Homo sapiens: one gene and its partners. The protein of the gene in region 3 purifies or fractionates together with the protein of the main gene of each other region. This does not show direct contact. Each region holds a gene or a part of one and is shown on either strand. Other genes may lie near its edges.

The links. The genes of interacting proteins can lie anywhere in the genome.
Region 1: the proteins of ANKMY2 (region 3) and KANSL3 purify together in Homo sapiens (affinity purification with mass spectrometry; 2 studies listed by BioGRID and IntAct, with this or other methods). This does not show direct contact.
Region 2: the proteins of ANKMY2 (region 3) and ADCY3 purify together in Homo sapiens (affinity purification with mass spectrometry; 2 studies listed by BioGRID and IntAct, with this or other methods). This does not show direct contact.

The regions. Positions count from the first base shown.
Region 1 is NC_000002.12:96,600,302-96,607,323, reverse strand, and holds part of KANSL3 (KAT8 regulatory NSL complex subunit 3), read left to right. Parts: intron 1-276; coding exon of another isoform or gene 277-354; intron 355-1,786; coding exon of another isoform or gene 1,787-1,812; coding exon 1,813-2,004; intron 2,005-2,460; coding exon 2,461-2,545; intron 2,546-2,943; coding exon 2,944-3,074; intron 3,075-4,461; coding exon 4,462-4,571; intron 4,572-4,985; coding exon 4,986-5,208; intron 5,209-5,547; coding exon 5,548-5,681; intron 5,682-6,820; coding exon of another isoform or gene 6,821-6,850; exon of another isoform or gene 6,851-7,022. UniProt on the Homo sapiens protein: Non-catalytic component of the NSL histone acetyltransferase complex, a multiprotein complex that mediates histone H4 acetylation at 'Lys-5'- and 'Lys-8' (H4K5ac and H4K8ac) at transcription start sites and promotes transcription initiation.
Region 2 is NC_000002.12:24,917,227-24,924,842, forward strand, and holds the start of ADCY3 (adenylate cyclase type 3), read right to left. Parts: upstream 3,012-7,616; 5' UTR 2,457-3,011; intron 2,360-2,456; exon of another isoform or gene 2,248-2,359; intron 1,959-2,247; 5' UTR 1,762-1,958; coding exon 1,087-1,761; intron 1-1,086.
Region 3 is NC_000007.14:16,600,738-16,607,759, forward strand, and holds part of ANKMY2 (ankyrin repeat and MYND domain-containing protein 2), read right to left. Parts: intron 4,175-7,022; exon of another isoform or gene 4,113-4,174; coding exon 3,984-4,112; intron 1,773-3,983; coding exon 1,643-1,772; intron 209-1,642; coding exon 24-208; 3' UTR 1-23. UniProt on the Homo sapiens protein: May be involved in the trafficking of signaling proteins to the cilia.

The DNA.
Region 1 (7,022 bases), on a different chromosome or scaffold from region 3:
CGAACATATATGGAGTCCTTGCTGTGTGCCATGCCTTCTTCATGGCACTCGCATTGCTGTAGTTTGTTGAGTTTTGGCATGGCCCCATGAGGCAGATAGTACTATTCAGTTTTAGATGCTTCTACAGACTGACTCCGTGGCAGAGTCAGGTTGCCATGCAGTAATTTCAGAAGGAGCCCCTATTGGCCATTTTCTACAACCTTTTTTCTTATTCCCTCTCTTTTTCTCCCTTCTCTGGCTGGCTGTGATTCTGTAATTCTTTCTGATTCATTCCAGCACAGTTTGCTGCTTTTCTGAAACAAAATATGCTGGTGAGGAAAGCTCTTCCTCCTGGCACCTCCTCCTGTCTCTTTGGTGAGTATTACTCTTTCTTGCCTGCTCGTCCACTACATTCTGCTCCTCAACCCCTTATTTATTTTCCATCTCTGCCTCTCATCTGCCTCAGTTTGGTTTCCTCCTGTTCTTTTCTCTCTCTTTCTTTGTATTCTTTTGTTTTGCTGACCCCTTTTGCTTACTCTGTAGTCTTTGCCCTTTTTCCATTCTTTTGTTTGCTTCTCATGGTGTTTTCTTTTTTGTCTCTTAGTGTGGTTCTTTCTTTCACTACGGTCTTGGCTCTGCTGCTTTTTTGTATGTCTGTGGCATTGCCTGAGTCTCAGTTTCCTTGTGTGTTTTTCTCCCTGCCTCCTGTCCTGTGTTTATCTGGTGGCTACAAGCCTACCAGCCACATATCAGCATAGAACCTGAAACTCCTTTCCCCTACACCCTCCTTCCTACTCTGATTTTAGCCAGTGCATTTGTCCCCTAAGCAATCCTTCTAGCTGGTTATGTCCTGACTGTTGCCTCATGCCAGGACCCCTCCTCCCTCCTCATGTGACTGCTACCTTCCTCCCCACACCAGTCTTTGCTTCCCTGTGCTACAAGAGGACTAGGGTGGACTTCTGGGTTTAAAGAGGAGGGAATCTTTGAGGAAGCTTGAAAGATAACCTAAGAGTCCAAAAAGCTTGGCTGTATACATGATGAGCCTGTTTGATTCAGTGGAAGTGGAAGCCCATGTGTGAACAGATGGCCTTTGTCTGTACTAGTACACATGACCTGGGGACTAGGTTGTGACATGGGCCAGTGTTGCCCTGTTACTTTTGGGTGGGAGCCGTGAGGTTGCCTGGTTGAGGTACTCTCTCTCCTAGTAGCTACTCATAGCCAGCTTTTAGTCCTGGTGACACTCCTCTTCATTGCCTCCATTTGGCAAGTGGATCCTCAACTGTGGGCTCTTAGGGCAGGGTGGGACTCTTGAGAGCCTTTGGAAAACTCTACTTTTTAGAGAGGACTGGATGACCTGCTCCTCCATGAGTTCTCATAGAATGTTTGATGTCTCCAACTGTGTGATGATGTGGGGAGGGCTTCAGACAGGAAGATGATCACATTTTTTGAGTCTGAGAAGGACTGTTTACTCATTCTGTTGAATCCTCTATTTTTGTTGTTGTTGCCATTGGCCTTGGCTAGGCAGGGTCAGGATGTCTTCTGTCTTTTAATTCCTACCAACTCAGGGCCCCTTCTCTTCCGATTCCAGTGCAGGATGAGGGATGAGAAGGGTGCCATCCTCTAAGAAGGGCAAAGTGGGGTCCCCCACGGACAGGGCCTGAGTGAAGTGGTCCTGAAGCATGGGCAGTCTCCTTTGAGGGGTGGCCCTGTACGTAGAGTGGTTATCCTGTGTGTTCTACATTCTACACATGGCTGTGTTGGTGCTGGTATTGACTGAGTGTCTGTTGGGATTTTTTGGATTGTGGAGGATCTCAACTCAGCTCCATGTCTTAGTTCCCATTTCATCAGAACCACCAGAGGAAGGAGAGAAAGAGGATCTTAGGGTTCAGCTGAAGCGACACCATCCCTCGAGTCCCCTTCCTGGCAGTAAGACCTCCAAACGACCGAAGATCAAGGTGTCCCTTATCTCCCAAGGGGACACAGCTGGAGGGCCTTGTGCTCCTTCCCAAGGAAGTGCTCCAGAAGGTGAGTTTCTCTTGGTACGTTAAATGAGAACTGAGCTCTCTCAGGTACACAGCATTGCCCTTTGGTGGCCATTCACCAGCATGTCAGCCTTTGCTTTATTTTGAGAGATGCCCGGAGCAAAGAAGACATGAGTCTGTACATGTGGGTAAAGTTGGCATGAGTCCATCTGAATGAGGACCAGGCAGGCAGAATATGAGAGGAAGCTGTGCCATCGTTCAAAGCATCCTATATTTTGTTCTTTTTTTGTTGGCTTCAATTAAAGGTACAGAATATTTCAGGAAGTTTAGAAAATAGAAGGAAAAAATAACCCCAACTCTCCCTACTCTAGCATAGTTCATCTTTTTTCATTTTCCAGTTTTCGTCCGTAATATCTTGCATTTAGCCTAAGCTGTGGAACCTGGAAACATAGAGGCCAAATAGGACTGACCAGGGGCCTTGGGGTTTTCTGTTTTGAAGCTGCAGGTGGGAAGCCCATCACCATGACACTGGGGCAGGCTTCAGCAGGGGCCAAGGAGCTCACAGGACTTCTCACCACAGCCAAGTGAGTGTTTATTGGACCATCTGTGTCTATTCCTTTTTTCCCTTCCCTCTGTTTCTGGTTTATTTAGTGCTTTGGAAAATGATGGATTCTGGATTCTTGTCAGTTTTGGAAATGTGACTTACTTCTGATTGGGATCTTTGTCTTGCTTTTGAGTCAACCCAGAGTTCACTTTTACTTAAGACTCCAAATCGTCCCCTGGCTTTTGCTATAAGTCCTGTAAGTAAGGACTTTTAGAAGACTAGAGGCCAGGTACAGAAAGTGGGACAAAGAAGCTGAAGGTTTTTGGTGTATGTCTGCTGCTGAAAGCCTTGCTGGGCCCCACTCTGTACCCTGCCAGTGTTGCTAGGGCTTGCTGTCCTGTGACCTTTGGATAACAGAGCTCCTTCCTTTGTCTCCAGGTCCAGTTCTTCTGAAGGTGGAGTCTCAGCCAGCCCAGTCCCTTCAGTGGTCTCCAGCAGCACTGCACCCAGTGCCTTGCACACACTGCAGAGCCGCCTGGTGGCCACATCTCCTGGCAGCTCCCTCCCAGGTATCTTGTGGCCCAGCATTCTCCCCTTCCAACACAGAATTTTTGGTCTGCTGCTTCTGGGTGGTCCTGGGAAAGCATCCCTGGAGCTAAATCCATAGGATGGGCCTCTGGGTCTTAGAGTGATCATAGAGGCTTGACGTGAAGCTGGAATTAGCTTGGGCAGAGGGATTCCTTGGCCTTGAATAAATGCAGTGAGTAAATGTCCTGGTCTGCAAGTGAGTAAATGTTCCAGTCTACAGGTGCTGTATCCTCTACTGTAAGGAGAAATAGCCGATAGGACATATATGTATAGTCAGCCTTTCTTATCCACAGGAGATTGGTTCTAGGACCCTCACCACTACCAAAATCCATGGATGCTCAAGTCCCTTATATGAAATTATGTCATACCGTTGGAATTCTATATCCACAGGTTTCTATCCGTGGTTGTTTGAATCTGCAAATCTGCTGTGAAGCTCACAGATAATTGAGAGCTGACTGTGGTTTTACTTTGCTGTTTTAAGCACATCTGCCTGAATAAAACTGGAAATGGTGCTACACTGGGCATTAGCAAAATGAGACATTTTTCTGTCTGTGCTTGTCTCTCTCTTTGTCCTACCCACTAACCCTACTTTGAAAGGCCTGTTGCCTGAGCCCAGCAGGGCCAAGGCATTGCAGAAACCCTCTCCTGGCCAGGCATGGTGACTCACACCTGTAATCCCAACACTTTGGGAGGCCGAGGTGGGTGGATCACCTGAGGTCAGGAGTTTGAGACCAGCCTGGCCAATATGGTGAAACCCCGTTTCTACTAAAAATACAAAAAATTAGCCGGGTGTGGTGGTGGGCACCTGTAATCCCAGCTGCTTGGTAGGCTGAGGCAGGAGAATCGCTTGAACCCAGGAGGTGGAGGTTGCAGTGAGCTGAGATTGTGCCATTGCGCTCCAGCCTGGGCAACGAGAGCGAAACTCCGTCTCAAAAAAAAATAAAATAAAATAAACCCTTTTCCTTTAAGAGAACCTTTCTTATTGCTTTGAGGCTACTTCCTTACTGCTTTGATTGTGTGAGGCGAAGTGAAAGTTGGATATTTATAATTCTTTTGGCTTAAAAAGTTCTTCCCTGGAAAGAAAGGAACAAACTTGGATTTCTCAAAATGGTCTAAAATGTATGACTGATGGTTTGCAGCAGGTGCAGAGCAAGTCCGGGGCAGTGTCTGGCACAGTACCTTTCCTGTGTGGCATCCATTGCGTGTGTGCCTAGTTGGGGAGAGCTTCCTGCCTTCTCTCTGAGGACGGGTGTCCAAGGGCAAGCACCACTGGTGTTTTAGTTGGTGGTGAGGGTGGATGGATGTGGCTGCTCTCGGGATAGTGCAAGTGATTGAGTCTCTACTGATTCCTGCTATGTCCTCTCTTAGGGGCCACATCAGCCAGCAGCCTCCTCCAAGGCCTCAGCTTCAGCTTGCAGGATATCAGCAGCAAGACCTCTGGCCTTCCAGCAAATCCCTCCCCAGGACCAGCCCCACAGGTGCACATCTGCCATCTGCTGGGCTGGGCAGGTGTAGGGAGGAGGCCTCCTCAGCTTAGTTGGTTTTGGCAGGGAAACTAGGTCTGGAGTCAGTGGATCAAGGACAAACAGCCTTCTAGCTACATAGCAGGGAACTTACAAAAGTTAAGGTCTATCATTTACTGTGTGACCTTGGGCAAGTTTCTTGACCACTCTGTTTTTGTTTCTTTGTCTATAAAATGAGGTAATAATAGTACCTCCCTCATAGAGTTGTTATAAGAATGAAATAATATATGCAAAATGCCTGGAAGAGTACCTTGCATGTAGTAGGCACTCAATACATGTTAGCCTTTAATAATATGCTGTGGGCCCTCCAAGCTCGAATGTTGCTGTTGGGCGACAGCTTCTGATCACCTGGGCTTGTGTGTCCCACAGGCCACCAGTGTGAAGTTGCCCACCCCCATGCAGAGCCTGGGTGCCATCACCACGGGCACCAGCACCATTGTCCGTACCATTCCTGTGGCCACCACTCTCTCCTCCTTGGGTGCCACTCCTGGTGGGAAGCCCACAGCCATCCACCAGCTGCTGACCAATGGGGGCCTCGCTAAGTTGGCAAGCAGCCTCCCTGGCCTGGCTCAGATCTCTAACCAAGCATCAGGTGAGTCTCTCATGAGAACTGTGGGGACTCCCAGATCTGGGATCTTTCCCCCAGGACCTTCCCATCTCATGTGGGCAAGGTATGATGTTGAAACCAGTCCCACAGGGTCCTGGCATTGACCTTTGGATTCAGCTGTGTGGACCCATCCCCCAGAGAGGTTGAGAGAACACAGGCTGTTTCCTGTTGCCTTTCAGATTGACTGATAGGGCATAGATGACCCAGCTGGGGAGGAGGCCAAGGGACTGTGTTATGTGGGGGAGAAGCTCTCCAGGAAAGGAAAGCCTCAGTAGAAGGTGGAGAGTGTGACTCAAAAATTCTGCTTCTCTCTCTTTATCTCAGGCTTGAAGGTCCCCACCACCATTACTCTGACACTTCGTGGCCAGCCGAGCAGGATCACTACACTGAGCCCTATGGGCTCAGGAGCAGCCCCATCCGAGGAGTCCTCTTCCCAGGTGCTGCCCTCCAGCTCACAGGTGAGTCTGCCAGGAAGGACTGAGGACATGGGCTTCATTATTGGGAAGTTTAAGACCAGCTGACTGGCTGATTGAAGGGGCTGCCCATGCACTGGACAGACGAGATTCAGATTCAAATTCAAATCTGTATTCTGGAGTTTGTGGCTTTATAATATTGAGCGAATCATGGACATCTTTGAGCTTCCTCTTCTACATCCCTCCCTTGATATTGTGAAGAGTACATATGTTCAAGTGGGTAGCAGTGTCTAGTATTTAATGTTTTTGTTTACTTTTCCTTTCGTTTCATTTTTTTCTCATCCTTGGTTTCATCCTTCAGAGGTTATGAGTAGAGGCTACTTGGCTAATGCTCTTTCTTTGTTTTTATTTTTATTTTTTGAGATGGAGTCTTGCTCTATCGCCCAAGCTGGAGTGCAGGGGTGTGATCTCGGCTCCCTGCAACCTCCACCTCCCCGGTTCAAGCAATTCTCCTGCCTCAGCCTCCCAAGTAACTGGGATTACAGGCGCCCGCCACCATGCCCGGCTACAACAGGGTTTCACTGTGTTGACCAGGCTGGCCTCGTACTCCTGACCTCAAGTGATCTACTTGTCTCGGCCTCTGAAAGTGCTGGGATTACAGGTGTGAGCCACCGCTCCTGGCCCTTTCTTTGTTTTTAAGGACATGGAGACAGAGATATCTCACTATGTTGCCCAAGCTGGCCTTGAACTCCAAGGTTTAAGTGGTCCTCCCGCCTCGGCCCCCAAGTATAATACTCTTTCTTTGACATTGGCTTTCTAGCACTGTGCCTTCCCATATCTTAGCATTTATTGCTGTCTTTTTAGGGCACAGCTAGGTTTTTATAGGTCTCACCCAGGAAGTCATGATTAGTTTCTCTTAGCTGATCTAATTTCCCCTGTGACCTTTTCAAGTCAAATATTTCTAATCTTAAAATGGTAATCTGAGGAGCCACTCAAAGATTAGAAGTTAAGCCAAAAAACAGTTTGAGTCTAGTACTGAGTGTGCTTTCCTTCAGTATCCGCTATACAGCCAAGGCCTTCCTGTGTCTCCCTGTCCTTTCCACCATGTCAACCTGCTTGTGAACTGGAGGTGCAGTGATAGTTCCTGAGCCATTCTAAAAGCTCTTCTGTCTCTTCCTCTTTAGGGAAAATACTGCACAGAGGTCAACACCTGACATTCGTTGGGATCATAGCTACCTTTTTTTGCAGAGGGATGGAAATGTTTTAATTTTATCTTATTTCTTATTTTTTCAATTATAAAAATGATTATGCTTATTTTAAATAATTCAAACATTATAGAAATAATTAATTTAGAAAGGGAAAGTTTCCCATGATGCTACTCCTAGA
Region 2 (7,616 bases), on a different chromosome or scaffold from region 3:
GGCACGCCCTGCCTCTCCTGACACCCAGAAGGTCACCGCTTCAGAGCTGACTCTACCCCAGCCCCACTAACCACAGAACAGAGCTGGCGTGGGAGTTAAGACATCTCTACCAGACAGAGCACTGCAGGGGCAGGAAGTGGGGGAGCCTCTCTTGACCATCATTGGCACGAGGCTGGCAGGCTGGGCACCAAACCCAGATGCAGACATCTCCGCCTCATTCTCTGGTCACCGGCTTGCTGGCTCCCCAGGGACACACACTGCCTACTGTCCCTCAGGTCCCCTGGTCTCTGCAGCCCCTGAGGGCCTGGCACTTGGTGGGAACACAATACTATAATAGTTAAGCTGAGGCCGAAATTCCACCCCTTCCAGTAGAAAGCGTGCTCCAGGACCAGCAGAATGCGTGCTTTAGGACCAGGAGACCCTACGTCACAGTGGCCGGCATGACTGTCCCCATTTGCATCCCCACACCACACCTTCAGTGGGGAGACCACCATTCTCCACTTCATAGAACTCCCCAGGCACCCCGAGCTCCCGGAGGCAGGAAATATGACAACTGCGTCTTCCCTCTGTGCAGCCCTTCACGTATCCTAATGCGCTTTCCCCCACATCTCCTGCAATCCTGACAACAACCGTGTCATGCAGGCAGAGCGGACGTTATCCCCATTTGACAAAGGGGCACTGAGTCCACACAGCTAGTCAGTGCTGGGGAGAGATGGGAATCAAGGAGCCCTCTTCCCAAGGGAGGTCCTCCTTGCCAGGGTCACTGACAGGGAATGGCCAGGACAATGCTGCCTCAAGACCAGCCCTGGGTGGGCCTTCCTGTCACACACTTAGACTGGGCACAGGTGAAGAGTGGCCCTGAGGCCCAATGCCCTGACATCCTCCTTTCCCTGGGGCCAAGCACAGGCAGACTCCGGGTAATGGCACAGGGGTGAAAAGGCAGGGACTAGGGAGAGAGGTGAGAGCCCCGGAGGCCCCCAGGACACATTTTGACTCAAAGGCAAAGCAAACAGCAACTCCAACAGGTCCCAAGTTGGTGAGAGCTGCAGGAGAGGACGCTGTGGGGGGACAGTGGGCAGGACTCACCTCCCGCAGCAGCTGCATCCCCTTGAGCTCCTCCTGCTGCTGCTGGGCCACGGTGACCCCCAGGACCAACGTGTGCACCACACAGGAGACCACGGAGATGATCACGATGGGGCTGAGGCTGAGGGGCAGCGTGATGAAGAAGGAGAAGACAAAGAAGACCTGCCAGCCCACCGTGTCACTAGCCGCGTGGGCACGCGCGAAGTTCAGGCCCAGGTAGGAGAAGATCTGGGCGGTTATGAGCAGCCACAGCACGTAGGGCAGCACTCTGCGGGTGACCCGGTCCGGGAGCAGCCCCTTTTTGCAGAGCACGAAGAGGATGATGTCCAACACCAGTCCAATTCCAGCCACGGCGAGGGAAGCCAGCTTGTCGCTGGAGAAGACCACAGCACACATGACCACCACGTAGCAGTCAAAGAGGGCTGCAAAGACCACCAGCACCAGCAGGGTCTCGTGGCGCTGCCTTTTGAAGTAGGTCTGGTAGAGGTTCTCCAAGGACTCCGGCACGAAAGTCAGCCGCATGAAGCGAGGCAGGCACAGGCAGGAGCCCGAGTTCCGGACCGAGATTTCATGGGTCCGGCCCACCCCGCGGTCAGGGTCGGAGGGCAGGCTGACGGAGTACTCGGCTGAGTACTCGGCCGAGTATTCGGGCTCGGAGAAGCCCTGGTTCCTCGGCATACTGGCTGGTGTCTGCTACTGGCCCTAGAGAAGTGGACTGGGAACGGAGGAAGAGCTCTGGACTGGGCCTCCTCTCAGGGCTCTCTGAGACCGGGGGAGGGCTGAGGGCCTCTTCTTGTCTGGGGCGGAGGGGAGGCCACCTCCAGCAGGAACGCAGAGCGGGTTTCCAGAGCACAGGTAGCACTGATCAGCTAGAACTGAAAAGGGCATTGCTGAGTAGAAGCACCTCTTCCCTCCTACCTTGCGGTTTCCCCATGACCCGCCCTAACCCTCATAAAAGGATCTCTGCTGCAAGAGCCTCCCAACCCAGGGCCTTCCCTGCCACCCCCGGCTCACACCACCGCCCACCGCAGGCACACTTAGTCCTGTCCACGCCAGACACTCAATTTCCTGTCCCTGGCTTGTGGAAGGGCCTAGCCGCCTTTCCATCCCTGGTAACCGGTTTCTCTCTGTCATCTCTTCTTTCTCAGTCCCCGACTTCCTCACCTAAATTCCCTCCAGGCCCAGTCCTTAGAAGCTGTAAATAAAATGTGCCGGAAAGAAATCAGGACCATCGTGGGGGATTCCTGAGCCTTCCTTCTGTTTACTTCCTTTTTCCACCAAACCCTTGGAGGCTCGGGCTCCGATCCGGCCCCCTTCCCACGCTCGGGGCGCTGTCTTCCCCCCCGGAAGCCTGGCCCTGCCCCTGCGTTTACCTGTGCGGGAACTCGGCCACCGCGTGCTCCGGGACGGTCCCCGCGCGGGCTGGGGCGGGAGAGCTCGGCGCGCCCGAGGGCTGCTCCCCGCAGAGCCGCGCCGCCCCGGCAGCGCCTCGGGGCCCGGCCGGAGCGCGATCTCCCGCCGTCAGGCCCGGGATCCGACCGGGAGAGGCGCAGGGCTGCCCCTCAGCATCCGCGGGCGCCCGGCCGCAGGGGGAAGGAGGAGGCGGCGACGAGGGCTGGGAGATCCGTGGGCGCCGGCCCAGCGCGCCCGCCCTGGGGCTGAGGCTCAGGGGCAGGGGCCGTGCGGGGGCCGGCAGGCGCGGGCGGCGGCGAGCGCGGCTCTCCGGACCCCTCCCCTGCACCCGCGGCGGCGGCGGCTGCTAGGGGCGCGCGCGGGGCCCTCCCCGGCGGGAGCGCGGGCCGAGCCCGGGGAAGCCCGCCAGCATCCTCTCGCCCGCCCGCGCCGAGCCGAGCCAGCCGAGTCCGGGCTCGGCGTGCTGCACAGCTATTCCCCGCGCGGCGCCGGCGGCTCCGGGGCCACGCGCGCTCCAGGCCCCGGGAGGCGGGAGGCGGGAGGCGGGAGGCGGGCGGGGCGGCCCCTCCCTCGCCCCAGTCTCCGCCCTCTCGGCGGCGCGTTCCGGAGTGGGGCGGCGAGGGAGGCGCCGGGCGGCGGTCCCAGGACCCGCGCGGGCGAGAGGTGGAGGGGCCCGGGCGGCCCCCGATCCGGCGCGGGCGGCGGGCTGGGGCGATGGCTGCGTGGAAGCGCGGGCGCGGGCGCGGGCGTGGGCGGTGGGCGGTGGGCGGCAGGGCTGGGGCGAATCCACCCCTTCCAGCGAGGAGGCCCGGTCTAGGAGGATGGAAGCCCGGGACGCGCCCGCCCGCAGGTGAGGCGCGCTCGGGGCACCCCGCCGCCCCCTCCTCCGCCGCGGCTTCCTTCCGGGCCGGCAGAGGCCAGGGCTCAGGTTTGGGGACCGCTCCGCCGCGGGGCACGTGGGGCCTAAGTATCCCCGCCCACCCCGGGAGCCCAGACTCCGGAGCGCCGGGCCTGAGCTTTCCGCAGAGGGGCTCGGCAGCGGAGCCCTGTCCTGCTCCCAGGAGGCGGGTGGCGGTGGCCCGGTGGGCACTACACACGTGGAACTGGAAGAGTTCCTGAGACCCTGCTTCGAAGAGATTTCCCGTGCACATTCTACCCGTTTGAGATGTGTTTGAGTTCACAAACTGTCCCTTAAAGATGCGAATGCTCCTTTGAATAGTTAAACCTATCAGTCTCTTACACCATAGTATAAATTATTTTCCTTGCATTTGACAGAACACCGTGCTAAGATCAACTACAGGCTTTGGGAATTTAAATAAAGGAAGAGGAAAGAGATAGAATGTTTTGGGACAAAAGGGACAAAAGCATGTGTGGGAAGGTAAGTGCTGAGGACAGCCAGCAGCAATAGGGGGTCATCTCCCCTGGGGAGAGCTGAAGGAATGAACAGAGGGGAGAGAAACTTGGCTATCCAGACCCTGGATGGAGCTGCCACCCCATGCCCCTGAGAGTTATCCGCGGGCACCCCTTCCAGAACCTCAGGCATCACCTTGCATCCCTCGGGGAATGGATCCATTAGAGAATCGATCCTGCCACTGCTGTTTCTACCGTTCCCTCACACTCTGTCTGAAAAGGCGCCACCTTCAGCCCATACTTCGCAGGGCTTTGATTCCAAAGGTAGGGGACCTAACATCAGATATAGGAGTTTGGTAATTTAAATAAAGCAAAACTTTGCCCCATTGTTTTATTTTATTTCTATTTTTTATTTTTTCGAGACTGAGTCTCACTCTGTCACCCAGGCTGGAGTGCAGTGTTGTGATCTCAGCTCACTGCAACCTCCACCACCCAGGTTCACGCAATTCTCCTGCCTCAGCCTCCTGAATACCTGGGATTGCAGGCACACACCACCAAGCCCGGGGTAATTTTTGTATTTTTAGTAGATGGGGTTTCACTATGTTGGCTAGGCTGGTCTTGAACTCCTGACCTCAAGTGATCCGCCCACCTCAGCCTCCCAAAGTGCTGGGATTACAGGGATGAGCCACTGCTCTGGGCTGCCCCATTGTTTTAATTTGCTGGAGGTTTTTGGGTTTTGGGGGGGATTTTTTTTGGAGGGAGTTATTTGTGGTTTGTTTTTTGTTTTTGTTTTTTAAAAAGGAAGGCATTTATTTATTTATTTATGAGACAGAGTCTCACTCTGTCGCCCAGGCTGGAGTGCAGTGGCCATCTCAGCTCACTGCAACCTCCGCCTCCTGGGTTCAAGCAGTTCTCCTGCCTCAGCCTCCCAAGTAGCTGGGATTATAGGCACCTGCCACCATGCCTGGCTAAATTTTGTATTTTTAGTAGAGACAGGGTTTCATCATGTTGGCCAGGTTGGTCTCGAACTCCTGACCTCAAGTGATCTGCCTGCCTCAGCCTCCCAAAGTGTTGGGAATACAGGTGTGAGCCATCATGCCTGGACTTTGCTGGAGGTTTAAACATTTATTTTGAATTGTCACATGATGTTAAAGAGGACATGACTTTTATGTTTTACAAAGGGAGATGTAATGTACGGCAAGGCGCAGTGGCTCATGCCTGTAATCCCAGCTCTTTGGGAGGCCGAGGCAGGCAGATCACTTGAGGTCAGGAGTTCGAGACCAGCCTGGCTGACATGGCAAAACCCTGTCTCTACCAAAAAATACAAAAATTAGCCGAGCGTGGTGGCGGGTGCCTGAAGTCCCAGCTGCTCAGGAGACTGAGGTGGGAGAATCGCCTGACCCTAGGAGGCAGAGGTTGCAGTGAGCCAAGATCGTACCACTGCACTCCAGCCTGGGCAACAGAATGAGACCCTATCTCAAAAAAAAGTGGGGGTTGGGGGAGAGATGTGCTAATGTTTTTTAAAAGGCTGATAAATCTTGTGCTTGGTCCTGCTTTGGCACAAGAGACACCATGTTGCACCCTCTGTGGGTCCCTTCCCCTTCCTTGGCATACATGCCAGCCCTGTGATTCTCAGTGTGGCACCCTGTCCGCAAGGCCATGCCCAGCTCCTAAGCTGAGAGGGTTCTCTGCTGGGCCCTCTGCCACCACTCATGCCCCAGCCTCCCACCCCATGAAGGGAGAGAGTTCCACACAGAGGCACCCTCATATAAAAAGAACAACAACAAATTGATCCCTGCCTCTCCAGCCCCTGCCTGCTGGCTTCACTGTCCCACTCCCTGTTCTTCCACCATCCCTATCTCTCCTCTGTGGGCCCCTGTTCAGCGGGCACTGGGGAAACCAGAGGAGCCTTATAGTTCTGCCAAGGCACCATGTTGACTCATGAGGCAGACCCTCAGGTGTACACAGGTTACAGTTGGGGGTGACTTCTGGCTGAGGTGATCAGAGACAGGGCCTTTCAGGGCAAGAGGGAAGGATCTGATGGGCCTGAAAGGCAGGCGTTCCAGGTGGCTGGAGCCTCCCTGCAAAGGCCCAGCCGCAGGAAGAGCACAGCACATTCCCATCCCTGCTCCGCGTTCAGGGTTCTGGCACGGCCTTTCCCTGTGGATATGGGAAACGCAGTGGGACAGCAGTAGGCCCTTGCGAGGACTCCCGGGGAGCCAGAAGCATCTGGGTGAATATTCCTGGGCAAGAGAGCTGCTTGACATCCTGCCACAGAGGAGATCAGGGAAAATGCCGCGAGGGCCTCATCCATCTCACTCACAGTGGCTTCCCCAGTACCTGGCACCTAGTAGATACTCAAAAAATAGTCATTGAATGAATGGAAGTCTCCCTAAGAAGAAATGGTACTTTATAAAGGCACTGGCTGTCCTTGAAGGGACCAGCTGGCCTCATTCCCTGATACTGAGAATGTCCTGGTCCCAGGGCAATGAAAAATATCCACCCTCGAGTGAAAAGGGTGGGATTATGGGGGAGCTGTTTTCACTTTCCAAGCTATACATTTTGTATTGATGTAACCTGGACAACTGGCATGCTTCGCTTTTATAATCAAATGATACAGGAAATCTATACACACACAACTCAGGACCTCAAATGGCTGCATGGGTGACTTGCCCCTGTGGCTTGTCCTAAAAGGAAGACAGAATCATAGACTTAGGTCGAAGCTTGGAGGGCATCCTGACCCCCCCCAACCTCAATCCAGCATCTGCCTGGATGGGATGCCTCTTTGCTGAAGGCAACTTTTTGTTTGTGTGGTTCAAGACTAGAAATCATGGCTGAGAATTAATTGTTACTGGATAAACAAGAATGGTTTGGCCCCCCCGGGGAATGTGGTGGCTCTTGAATCCAGCAAACAATAGATCAGAGCAGAACTCTGTGTCCTGGGGGAAAACAGAAGTGGGAGAGAGAAGATCATTAGCTCCCCTGGTGCTGGGCACCAGGAGAGCCCTGTCTGGGGCCTGAAAGCAGAGCTTGAGACCCGGCCTGCATGCAGGTGGTTCAACTGGGGAAGTGATTCCAGGGAAACAGAGCAGGAGCCTGGGAAGCTCAAAACAGAGAAGGCAGGAAAGCCGGTAAATATGAGGGTTTGTGACGGAGTTGGCCACTGGTGTGGGAGGGGGCCTTGATCCTGCTGGGACCCTCTGATGAGCCTTGCAGAAGGCACCTCAGAGCTTTCCACTGGAGGGCTGGCAAAGGTGGGTGTTCGTCCTCCTTTCATCCTTCCCTGTTGGTTAAGGGTTGCCAGTTGGGGTATTCTCTCCCTGGCTCTTGTGCAAAGGAGGCTAAGCAGTGAGCGGACTGGGCAGGAAACGAGGGATCCTCAGTGCAGATACCTGGCAAGGTGCTGCTGGGGTGTGCCTGCAGCAGTAACGGGAGTGGAGAGGGGGACCGGGGGGATGTGGCATGTGATACTCAAGCATCCTGTGCAGGGCCCACACCCCTCATCCATTCCTGCTGGCTCAGAGGCTCAGCAGTTTGGATCCTGTCACCTGGAGGAGAGGTGTGTGGTACCCTAGGGAAAGCTGGCTCCCTGGAATCAGAGAGCTCAGTTTTGAGCATGGCCTTGATGAGAGCTGAGCACCTCGGACCAATTACTCAGCCCCCACAAGCCTGTGTCTCTGTGGTGCAGTGACAGCACTAACCCTTAGTCAGGATCCTTGTCAGGAAGTAGGGGATTCATGGGACCAACATGGTGGGCAGATCTCAACAAA
Region 3 (7,022 bases):
CACACTGGCACTTGCTCTGGCTTTTACTCCTCAGACACCTGTGGCCCTGCAGGAGCATCCTGTAAGCCTTCCAACTCAGCTTCGCTTTCAAGAGATTCTTTCTTTCCTTCCCCGGAATCTTCAGGATTGGAATCCTTTTGAGAGATACCTACTTCAGCCTCTGGTTGCTCTTCATTAACACAGTTAGAATTGACATCAAGTTTGCCGTCTGATTAAAAAAAGAAGAAGTTATTTTGTTCCTACCATGTGTCAGACACTCTTCTCAATGCTTTACATGTATTATTTAATCTTCCTATCAACTACATGAGGTATATTAGTATCTCTACTGTCATCGCTAACGTTATTTTACAAATGAGAAAACTGAGAAGAGAGAGGTTTGGTAGCTTGCTGCAAGTTTCCTGGCTAGTGAAACAGCAGAACCAGCATTTGAACTCAGGCCGCTGGCTCCAAAGCCATCTCTAAATCAAGATTGTTGCTTGGGATTTGACAAAGCCTGTATTTGAATACAGCTTTTCTGTGAATTTATTTGATGTCCTTGGAGAGGTAATTGCCTGCATGAAGTTGTTTCCCTTGTCTATAATATGCAGGTAATAAAGGCTATCCTACATTGGTGAAGAATAAAGTTGTCTGTAACATTTAGAGCAGTGTTTGGTGCATGAATGATGCTTAACAACTGGGAGTGCCCATTCTACTGACAATCTTATTCTCCCTCAATAGTGTGTTAGTAATGAACATTTGTTACTTTCTGTCCTTAGCACATAGAATAAAAAAGTTTGGTCAAGAAAACAAGAGAAGGCATGGCAGTCAGAAAGCCTGACTATTCTCTTAAGGATAAATGGTTTAATTGTGTACAAACCATTTAATTCCACTGAGAGTATATCTCAACCCAGTAGTAAAGCGGATATGGTTCCTTGAGAGATGGAGGCAGAAATGCCTGGTATCAGAATAACCGAGGCATCTTTTTCAAATTACATGCACTCCCCCAGAACATATGATACATTCTCTGGAATGAGGCATGAGGGTGGGGGCAGTTCTCCTCTCCAATCTGATAATCACTGCTGAAGCAACTCACTATTTCTGATGAAAATGGGTCACAAAACCTCAAGAGGGATGGAGAAAAAAAAATACAAAATTCACTGCTATGACACTTGTAGAAATTTGATCTGTATATTAGATCTGCAATTTAATGAATGATTTATAAATATACTCTGTAATTTCACCTGTAGTTCTGAAATTTAATTAAGGAATTTAAAGGCTTCCACCCTTAAAATCTTCTGGTAGCCATTAGTGGAAATTTAATTAATTCCCTTATTCAAAGACTTTAAAATCCTTCATGAGCAGAATATAAGTTAATACCCATTAAGGGTCCCATTGTTCCAGGGCAGTAACCTAAGCTAGAATGTAAAATATGAAATAAGCTACATCCCTCAGAATTTGATGTCTCTGTTTTCCAGTGATGTCCAGGCTGACTATATCCTAAGAACTTAAAAACGGGACACATTAAAATTTAAATGTGATTCTTACATCGGTCACTCCTGAGCTCCTATGGCTTCCAGAGAAGACGCAGTTTCAGTGTGTTAAGATCACCTATCATCTCTCTCTCCACTAAAAAGCAGAGTGAACTCGGTTTTTATATACATACGGTTTTCCTCTTGTCTCTTTTCTTTGGCAGCCTCCAACTGTTGCTTTTCGTAAATGTCCTTCAGATTCTTACAGATTTTCTTATGAGTAAACCAGTGTGTTTTCTGGCAGGTTTGATCACAATATATTACCTGAAAGCAATTGTTGGTTTATTTTCATTTCCAGAGCTTGGGTTGTATGATTTCCTAACTATGACTAAACCAAGAACTAAGCTATAAAAATGTCATTTTCCATACTTTATTTTAAAACCATAATATGTGGTTGATATAGTTTGGATGTTGTCCCCTCTAAATCTCATACTGAATTGTGATCCCAAATGTTGGAGGTGGGGCCTAGTGGGAGGTGATAGGATCATGGGGGCGGTTTTCTCATGAACAGTTTAGCACCCTTCCCTTGGTGCTGTCCTCACAATACTGAGTGAGTTCTTACAAGATCTGGTTGTTCAAAAGTATGTGGCAACTCCCCCACCTCCTCTTGCTCCAGCTCCTGCCATGTGACATGCCTGCTCCCCCTTCACCTTCCACCATAATTGAAGGCTTCCTGAGACCTCACCAGAAGCTGAGCAGATGCCCATGCCATGCTTCCTGTATACCTTCAGAACCGTGAGCCCATTAAACCTCTTTTCTTTATAAATGACCCAGTCTCAAGTATTTCTTTATAGCAACGTAAGAACGGCCTAACACAGTATCTTTGTATTGATTTAGATTTATAGTTTGTAGCTTTACTTTAAAACAATAATGAATATATAACAAACAGTCTACCAAAGACTTTAGCAAATAGCTTATTATGAACCCGCTATGTGCCAGAATTGGTACAGTACAATGACAAGGAAGATAGAGTTGTCCCAAAGGTAGCTAGCATCAAGAAAAAGAAAGATATGGAAGAAGGGAGAGAGGCAGGCACCTAAATACATAATTTCTTAACACAGTACAGGATGTAAGAGTGATGGAGGCATAGAGGAAGCAGCAACTCACTCTAGCTGTGGTGAGTCGAGGTAGACAGAAAAATGGGAAAGAAGAATTCTAACTGGAGAAAATATCTAGTACAAAAATGCAGGAACAGGGAAGTGAATGATATGTTCAAGAACAGCAAGAAGTTTTTGTAAATGGCCTTATATTTTTGCAAGTAGGGGTGGAAAGGAGATGGGAATGAATGTTATTAAACACTTACTGTATGCCAAGCACTGTGGTAGGCCCTTATACATATATTGTATTATTGGCCCCAATTCTTCATTCATCCTTGCATTCATACACTTTCTCACATGATTTCAAAGTTCTCTGCACTGAAGGGGAGGAGACTTGACTTCAGATTGGGCCATGTAATTTGTTTCAACCAACAGCATGAAACAACATGGCAATTTCAAGGCTAGTCCTTGAGAGGTCTTCTGTGTTTCTACCTGCCCATGTGTACCTTTGCTATTGCCATGACAACATGCTCAGCCTAGCCTGCTAGTACAAGAAGGATGAGAGTCACATGGAGCACAACTGCCCCAGCTGAGAACAGCCAACCACAACTGTGAGAGAAAGACTAAATGATTATCATTTTAAGCACTGAGTTTGAGTGTGTTTTTATAAGCAGTAATAATTAACCAATATAAATAGTTTGATTTAATTCTGGAATTTCATTTAATTCAGGAAACAGGTTCAGAGAAGTAAGTCATTAAACAAGATGAAGCTGAAGAAGTAGGTCACAGCAGATTATAATGGGTTTCATACAACATGCTGGAGAATTTCAACCTTAAAGTCAACAGGCAGTTGATGCTACCTATGGGATTAAGTGAATGTACGGACACATGCATGTGTCCAGTATCTGGATATGAGAACAACACAATCAGATATGCCTTTTACAAAGATAATTCTGGCAGAAGGGGGCAGTACAGTCCATAGGGATTAAAGACTGGTAACAGTCAGAAACTATAGTTTTACAAGGATATGTTGATGAAGACACTGTCATTAAAGTCAACATCAGAAGAGTAAAGAATGTATATTTATGAACTGTCCTATTCTAGGTTTCACATCTGCACCAGCCTTGGTCTCGTGCCCCACGGAAAACCTTTCTCTTATTTTCTCATATTCATTCATTCATATCCTTTCTTTCCATGAGGTGATCAGCAAAGAGGCAAAGGAAGACTGGCAGTTTAGCAGAAGACAGACACAGTAAAGAACTATATTGATCCTATTAATTCTTTTCCAAAACTACTTTTTAAGTATTAAATAGAATATTTTCGTTACTAGAATTTATTAGAAAACTAATGTCCACTCTTACAGAATATTAAAACTCAATCATCAGCTTGGCTGCATCTAAACCAGAGGTCAATGAAATAAAAAGAACTCCATTCTTACCATTTTGCAAACTGAACATCTTTTACTTGCTCCCTTTTCTCCACAGGTAGTGCAAAATTCCACATCCACAAAACCCACCTGGCCAGTGATGGCTTGGGTAAGGACGGAGAATGCAGTGGGATCAGAACCCTAGAGTGGGCATGAAGAGGAGAAAAAACAAATTCTGAAATCACCATGGAAACACTACAGAGGTATCAGCCCACGGACACTGCCGTCCTACAATGTGACACAAAAAGGAAGAAATCATTAAGGCTATAGATTACACAGGCTTTAAGACAAAATGACAAAAATCTTTTAGAATATACCATTTTCTGTACAAAACATATGAAAAGTCAGTCATATGTCCAGATAATTAAAGAGAAAAAAACACCCTTAATCTAGAAAAAAAGTATTTTTCCAATAAGGATAATTCAGTAAGCCCATAGCGTTTCAGATTTAGGACAATAACTCCAGAGCAGAATTTTTTTCTGAGAACTGACATCCAGAAAATATTCATATTCCATGAGACAATTATAGGGCACATCAAAAATGTTTAACTGTCTTAATTCTGAAAAGTTTAGTACAATCTAAGTATTTTAAAGACAATATATTTAAACTCATTTACTTGATGTTGGCTTGTAATTCAAATAAATTATCACCATTATAATTGGTATGTTCCAAATTTGTTAAGAAACACACATGCAGCAATTGAATCAAAGTATTAAGAAAAACCAAATGTGTGAAACTTACTACTAGTGGGCAATGGAAAATTAAAATAGGTTAAAAAATATTTATAATTTTTATCTATTTTTATTTTTTTGAGATGGAGTCTCTGTCACCCGGCTGGAGGTGCAGTGGCTCGATCTTGGCTCACTGCAACCTCCGCCTCCCAGGTTCAAGCAATTCTCCTGCCTCAGCCTCCTCAGTAGCTGGGATTGCAGGCGCCCGCCACTACGCCCAGCTAATTTTTTGTACTTTTTTTTTTTTTTTTTTTTTTTTTTGAGACGGAGCCTCGCTCTGTCGCCCAGGCTAGAGTGCAGTGGTGTGATCTCTGCTCACTGCAAGCTTTGCTTCCTGGCTTCATGCCATTCTCCTGCCTCAGCCTCCCAACTAGCTGGGACTACAGGCACCCGCCACCACGCCCGGCTAATTTTTTTGTATTTTTAGTAGAGATGGGGTTTCACCGTGTCAGCCAGGATGGTCTTGATCTCCTGACCTTGTGATCTGCCTGCCTTGGCCTCCCAAAGTGCTGGGATTACAGGTGTGAGCCACCACACCTGGCCAATATTTTGTAATTTTAGTAGAGACAGGATTTCACCATGTTGGCCAGGCTGGTCTCAAACTCCTGACCTCGTGGTTCGCCCGCCTTGGCTTCCCAAAGTGCTGGGACTACAGGCATGAGCCACCGCGCCTGGCCTATAAACTTTTTTTACAAAGAAAATTATAAGGGGCTGGGTGTGGTGGCTAGCGCCTGTAATCCCAGTACTGTGCGAGGCCAAGGCAGGCAGATCATTTGAGGTTAGGAGTTTGAGAGCAGCCTGACCAACTTGGTGAAGCCCCGACTCTACTGAAAATACAAAAATTAGCCAGGCATGGTGGCACGCCTGTAGTCCCAGCTACTTGGGAGGCTGAGGCAGAAGGATCACCTGAGTCCGGGAGGCAGAGGTTGCAGTAAGCCGAGATCGTGTCACTACACTCCAGCCTTGGTGACAGTGCAAGACCTTGTATTTAAAAAAAAAAAAATTATAAGGGTAAGCATTTATCTGTCTGAGACGATGCTACTAAAACCTATTTAGCAAAAAATAATCACAGCGTTTCTATTTTTCTTACCTACTCCTAATAGTTCTTTGTTCTGAGTTTTTCAAATTTGTTCATTTGTTCCAAACCAGCATTTTGACACTCTTTATAATTTTCATTTTCATTTGAGTATTTGCTTTTTCTTCCTAAGAATATTTGTTTTTATATTATCTTACCAACTGTACATAATAGAGGTTTAAAAATATCACCTGGTAACAATGTCCTACACTGTTCTGTATACTCAAGATAGTCAAAGAAAATATTCAAAGATTCAAGAAGTATTTTAAAAGTAGCACTCATTTTGAAACTACCATGTTCTTCTTGAATACAAATAATAATGACTGGGTCTGCTTTCACATGAAAGTGCTACGAATTCTCTTTTGTGCTGAGCCTTGAGACAGGCAGAAGCCAGAGTTCCACAGCAGCAGAGGGAACCAAAAGCTGAGCAGGAGGGCCCAGGCATTAGCACTGTCAGAAAACAACACAGTGAAGCTCACAGCAGCCAGCCCTGAGAACCATCGTATGCGGGGAAAAGGTTGGGCATCACTTCAGAGGGTTAGAACTTGCAGAATATGAAAACCAATTAGGCAGTAAACAATGGCTGTGATACGCACAATCACAGGCATTTGGGATGAAGTCTTCCAGACAGAAGAACATAAAACTCTCAAAGAACAAAAATGTTTAAAGAAAAGTCTTTCTAAAATGCATTAAATACTATCTTAACTTTATTATAAACCTTTTCTTGATGACTCAGATCACTGGGATAAACATTAATCATTATACTCTAGGCCGGGTACGGTGGCTCACGCCTGTAATCTCAGCACTTTGGGAGGCCAAGGCGGGCAGATCACTTGAGGTCAGGAGTTCAAGATCAGCCTGGCCAACATGGTGAAAACCCGTCTTTACTAAAAATGCAGAAACATTAGTCGGGCATGGTGGTGTGTGCCTGTAGTCCCAGCTACTCGGGAGGCTGAGACATGAGAATCGCTTGAACCCGGAAGACTGAGGTTGTAATGAGCTGAGATTGCGCCACTGCACTCCAGCCTGGGTAACAAAACAAGACCCCCCTCAATAAATAAATAAAAATAATAATAATTATACTCTATAAACTCTAATTACATTATTCTATTATATGGAGCTAGGATAACTTGTTGACCACAATATTGACCTGCTTTTTTTTTTTTTTTTTTTTTTTAAAGAACTCTGGGTTGCTGTTTTAGTTTTTCTGTTTTTTCCCAGGAAGGTAAAAGGTCAGCAACCATT